Linked DNA regions of Homo sapiens: region 2 is linked to region 1. Evidence: fine-mapped QTL for protein levels in blood plasma. Region 1 holds a variant in brackets. A gene starts in the other region. All regions are shown on their reverse strands.

Region 1 (2,921 bases):
ACAATAAATATTTCACATTTGAATCCTGTAAGAATTCTAAATGTTTGAGCAGTTTTCCAAGCTCCATTTCTTCAAGAAAGCTAGAAGATAAAGAAAGCCTTTATTCTATTTCCAAGAAACTAGCTTGTCCCTGTCTTTTTGGCTCCTTCAGATGAGTTTTTCTAGGATGTGGCTAATGCCAACTGAATCCCAGTTCTATCCTCCAAATACGACATGAATCTGGGCAATTCGATAAACTGTGCATTTAAGTCTATTCTTGGGTTTGACTTAGAAGCAAAAAGGCACATCTAGATTACTGTGGAAACAATTATCTTACTATGTTTTACTACTTTTCAGTATAACTAAATTGATCATATTAGGAGCTCTAGTCTTCAACAGCCTTAAAAGTTTCATACTCATAATTACTTGCCCCAAAATTGTAATGCAAATGAAATAATCAAGATTTCCTTTAAGGTAACTTGTCTATGTGATAATAAATTATATCATTGCAACATTATGCATTTAGAATATAAAATCACCTCATTAACCAATCCATACATTAAATACAAATTGTCAACCAGTTATGATGTCGAAAAAAAACAAACTCCACTATAAGGGAAAAAATGCCTATCTTATAACAAGAAAGGAATCAATGAATGATATTCATGGATGAAGGGTAATCAATTTAATTTTTTATCTCTATGCCACCAATATAAAATCAAAGTAGTAACATGGCAAAACAAAAATCAAAAGGAATCTATGCATGAAACTCAATGGAAATTTAAGCCTCACATTGACCGAACATCAGAGAGCATGGTGAACCTAAAAGCATGCTTTCTAAATGTTTGTTTTACAATAAGTCATTGGAAGTGGGATAATTAGGGAAGCCAGAATTTATTTCTGATATACTGATCAGTGACAGTCTCTATGCAAGACTGATTTCAAAATAAGTGGTCGCATTATGTTGGAATGTTCTAATAAATACATTCCCAGTCTTTATTAGTCTGTATAAAATATCAAGGTTACCTAAAGACAAAAATTGCAAATTTTCTATCCCAAAATTTTTAAGTTGTTTGTGTACTTATCAATAGTATTGTATTTATCAATGGCATTGTTTTCTTCTGAAGGTAGTTTTTCAAAAAAGAGAGACACCTATGTTAAACCTTACCTTATGTTGAGTTTCATTACATTAGAATCCTAGAGTCTCCCACCCATCTTCAGGGCAATAATCAACGTGAATTGGGCTAACTTTTCCATTACAGTAAGATTCAGGGTGATTTTCTGGTGGTTTGATTCAGTTTAATGCCTTCTTACGTTCCTAGAAATTTACATGAATGTACCTGTAGGGGCTGCGGGAGTGAGAGGACTGGGC[G/A]GCCGTGGCTATTTGGCATACACAGGCCTGGGTCGAGGATACCAGGTCAAAGGAGACAAAAGAGAAGACAAACTCTATGACATTTTACCTGGGATGGAGCTCACCCCAATGAATCCTGTCACATTAAAACCCCAAGGAATTAAACTCGCTCCCCAGGTAGGTAATGTTATTCCAGAAATAGTTTCTTTAAGTTGTGCCAATGAGCATCATTCACTTTTATCAAATGATTTGACTTGATCCCTACTCAAGCTATGGGTTTTTTTCTTTTAATATATAAAGCATCCAATGAATGTCACAGTCTTTGAAGGAATGCTGGGCATCTGGTGCCATTATTCTATTATAGGTCCTTTCTCTTTTTTAAAAAATCATAAAGTCTAACACCTTGAACAATATTCCACTGAAATGCAAAGAATCTGAGAGCTATTAAGAATTATCAACCCATACCCGAAATGAGGCAAAGACCCCATCTCAGAATAAATGCCTATTGTATGTGAGCCAGGTTGGCTGGCAAATGAAGAGTATTATGGCAGTGCCCTGAATAGACCATTTAGGACATCTTTTCTTGGAAATACTGTATCTAAGAGAAAACTCCACCATGATATCTGGGTGAATTATTAACTATGAGATGTCATCAGTCATACCAAATTAACTCTTCCTCCATAGTTATATTTTGGCAGTGGCATTACAGAGAGTTTTTACTGTGTTCATTTAACAGTTCTAAGTTTCCACACTTCAACATTAACCTGTGGTTTTTATTATTGGAAAATTAAAAGCTATAAAAGTTTCAATATGGAAACTGACTCCCGGGGTTAAAAATAAAACAAAACAGAGTCTATGCTAACCCTGAGACTGTTCCCTGTGGGAGTGTGATAGGTGCTGATCTCTCTGAAATACATTTTGGCTGAATAATCAGAGTTACAGTTTGTGTATCTTGAAGGAAACTTCCCTATTCCCATGACAAAGGTGGGCTTATAGCCTCACATTTATGGAAGTAGCCCTTATAATTTCAATCCAGAAGAAAACTGGTTTTCTAAAAGCTCATCTTGGGTAATTTTTTAATGGGATTTCTGGCTTTCTTTTATGCACAAATTAGCTTATCTAAGGTTTCTGCTAGCCCCACCCAGGGAATTTTAAAAAAAATGCCTATCAGACTGCTAAACAGCAATCATTTGTTCACATAAGATTTAGTAAACTTCTCTTATGCACCATGTAGTGCGCTAGGTGCTGGAGATGTAGAAGTGAATATAACAAAATCCTTATCATGAAAAATTAGATGGCAATCCAGTGGGAAAAAACTGACACGTAAACATATAATGAAATCTGGAAGTGATATGATGAAGTTTGTTCAGAAAATATAAAAGCCACTCATCCAGTTTCTCTTAGGTTAAAACCCAAAACAAAAAACCTGATTAAAGTACTGGAATACTTAGAAATATTTTAAGAAAATAAAAAATAATAGTCGCAAATTCTGTATAATAATAGTTCCGAGAGCTGCAATAGTATGAAAAGAGATCTCTTCATTTTACATTAAACTCAAGTTAGAAATTCATCATGTCTTTTATTAGTATGT
Region 2 (2,846 bases), not on the chromosome of region 1:
ATGTCCTTTGCAGGGACATGGATGAAGCTGGAAGCCATCATCCTTAGCAAACTAACACAGGAACAGAAAACAAAACACTGCATGTTCTCACTCATAAGTGGGAGTTGAACAATGAGAACACATGGACACAGGGAGGGGAACAACACACACGGGGGCCTGTCAAGGGGTGGGGGCCAAGGGGAGGGAGAGCATTAGGAGAAATACCTAATGCATGTGGGGCTTAAAACCTAGATGACGGGTTGATAGGTGCAGTAAACCACCATGGCACATGTATACCTATGTAACAAAGCTGCACATTCTGCACATGTATCCCAGAACTTAAAGTAAAATTAAAAAAAAAAAAAAAAAAGAAAGAAAAAGAAAAAGAAAATGCCGTCCGCGCATATCTCTCAGGAGCATAGGAAGGGCTGTGAACCAAAAAGCCAGGGCGTGGTCGCCCCGCCCACCGGCCGCTACATCACCACCCCTCTCGCCGCTTTCAAGCGCGGAGATTGGCTGTAAGCAAGAAAGAGCCCCGCCCCTAGTCTTATGACTCGCACTGAAGCGCCGATTCCTGGCTTTTGCAAGGCTGTGGTCGGTGGTCATCAGTGCTCTTGACCCAGGTCCAGCGAGCCTTTTCCCTGGTGTTGCAGCTGTTGTTGTACCGCCGCCGTCGCCGCCGTCGCCGCCTGCTCTGCGGGGTCATGGTGTGCTTCCGCCTCTTCCCGGTTCCGGGCTCAGGGCTCGTTCTGGTCTGCCTAGTCCTGGGTGAGTTGTCGGGCCCTCCCGATTAGTCTGTCCGCCTGGGCCCGGGGCACCAGTTCAAAGCTACAACCTGAAAGACTGGTCCGAGGGGGAGGGGGTTGAGAGGCTCAGCAGCTAACACTGGGCGGCGGCGGTTGGCCCGGGGAGGCAAGCGGTGACCTAGAGAAGGCCTGACCGACGGATGGCGGGGAAGAAGGGCCCAGGAGAGTAAGAAGGGGCCGGTAACGGGGGGTGGACGCCGAGGGAGTAGGCTGGGAGGAGTGAAGCGTGGAGAGGGTCAGCGTGGAAAGAGTAACTTGGGGAAAACACTGAGGAGTGAGCGTAGGAGGGTGGTACATGCAGATTTTGGGCGCCAGAGACAATTAGGAGAGTCTTGGTTTGCTGAGATCAGGGAAGAGTTTTGAAGATGGTGGAAAAACTATGGGGTGAGATAGGAAATTAAGAGAGAAGACCATGCCTGCCTGGAGTAGCTTGGGAGAAGTGTGTGGGTGGGGGACAGATGGGACAGATAGGACAGTAGAGCCTGAGGGGCAGGGGCAGTGACAGGGTTGGGCATTTTGAAGGTTGGAATTTGAGACTGTGAAGAAAGGATGATTCAAGAGATTAGGAGTGATGCTGGGTTTGAGTTTGGTAGTCATAGTTTTAAGGGCGAAGGAACCTAAGGTAGCTGGGGCAATTTCCAGGAAAGAAAACTTGGACCCAACCTCTGGAGACTAAGGGGTTCAGGGGGAACTTTGATGGGGAGTGCACATCTGACTTGGAGGTATTGAGGATGTCGATTTTCTCCCAGTTTTGCTACTTCCTCCCAGCCAGACGCTGACAAAAAAATCCCCAGACGTTTCAGTTAGGAGGGCCTCCCAGATGTGAGGTTTTGGGGGTGGAGTATTTGAGTTTGGTAGACTACCTCTTTGCCTTCAGAGTTTCTTCTTTTCTTTCTTCCCCATCACACAGCTAGCCTATTACCTCATATTTTGGGGGTGCAGGGAGCAGGTAGACAAACTTGCTAAGGATTGGGTTGTTACCAGGGCCTAAGAATGGCTGGATGGGGCCGGGCGTGGTGGCTCATGCCTGTAATCCCAGCACTTTGGGAGGCCGAGGTGGGTGTATCACCTGAGGTCAGGAATTCAAGACCAGCCTGGCCAACATGGTGAAACCCCGTCTCTACTAAAAATACAAAAATTAGCCGGGCGTCGTGGCACATGCCTGTAATCCCAGCTGCTTGGGCGGCTGAGGCAGGAGAATCGCTTGAACCCAGAAGGCGGAGGTTGCAGTGAGCCAAGATTGCGCCATTGCACTCCAGCCTGGGCGACAAGAGTGAAACTCTGTCTCAAAAAATAAAAATAAATAAATCAATAAATAAATGGCTGGGTGAATGTTCGCTGATTGTGTTGTGCCCTAATAGGCAGTGGGTCGCTAACAACTTTAATGCCTAAAAGTGAACTTTGACTAAAGTGTCTCTTCCTGACTTTGATTCATGCTGTGCTTGTTGCTACCCACCTGCTCTTGCTATTTGTGACTTAATAAAATAACATAAAGAACAGACCCAGATGGGAGTGGGGAAGAAATAGACATATTAGGGGTCTGAGAAAGCAGTGAGAGGTATACATTTTGTAATTCACATTTCAGTAGAATGAAATCAACACCCTGGAATAGTGATTCTCAACCAGGGGACATTTGGCAACATCTGGAGACATTTTTGGTTGTAACAACTGGGGGATTGCTTTTAGCATCTAGTGGGTAGAGGCCAAGGATGCTGCTAAACATCCTAACTAAGCACAGGGCAGCCCCTGACAACAAAGAATCATCTCCCTGAAAATGTCAATGGTGCCAACATTGATAAATCCTGCTCGAAAACCATAGTATTGGAAGGGTTCTTGATTATCTAATTCAGTGACTCTCGAGGACCTTTTCATGCGTCTGTGAAATCAAAACTTCGGAATAAGGTTAAGAAGGTATTTGTCCTTTTCTGCTGGGCACAGTGGCTCACGCCTGTAATCCCAGCACTTTGGGAGGCTGAGGCGGGCGGATCACCTGAGATCAGGAGTTCAAGACCAGCCTGACCAACATGGTGAAACCCAGTCTCTACTAAAAATAGAAAAATT

Direction of the effects. Positions count from the first base shown, and alleles are read on the strand shown. Strength reflects both the effect of a copy and how common the allele is.
For the plasma level of the protein whose gene starts at base 557 in region 2, G is the low allele of the variant in region 1 and A is the other (weak association).

Evidence for each region. PIP is the chance, under the fine-mapping model, that this variant and not a neighbour inherited with it causes the effect. Protein levels are from antibody-based Olink assays in UK Biobank. Linkage for the fine-mapping came from a reference panel and not from the study's own genotypes, which makes the PIPs less certain.
Region 2: it holds the start of LAMP2, and the variant in region 1 is fine-mapped to the plasma level of the LAMP2 protein (UK Biobank, PIP 0.94).

Annotation. Positions count from the first base shown.
Region 1 is chr10:50,812,443-50,815,363 of GRCh38, reverse strand. It overlaps A1CF (APOBEC1 complementation factor), which reads left to right. Exons shown (of 13, transcript NM_014576.4): 10 at 1,326-1,507. Among named protein-coding and RNA genes, the nearest start is that of A1CF, 72 kb to the left of the region's middle. The variant G/A (reference allele first, on the strand shown) is at 1,352.
Region 2 is chrX:120,467,007-120,469,852 of GRCh38, reverse strand. It overlaps LAMP2 (lysosomal associated membrane protein 2), which reads left to right and starts at 557. Exons shown (of 9, transcript NM_002294.3): 1 at 557-747. The coding sequence starts at 684. RefSeq lists a silencer at 355-619.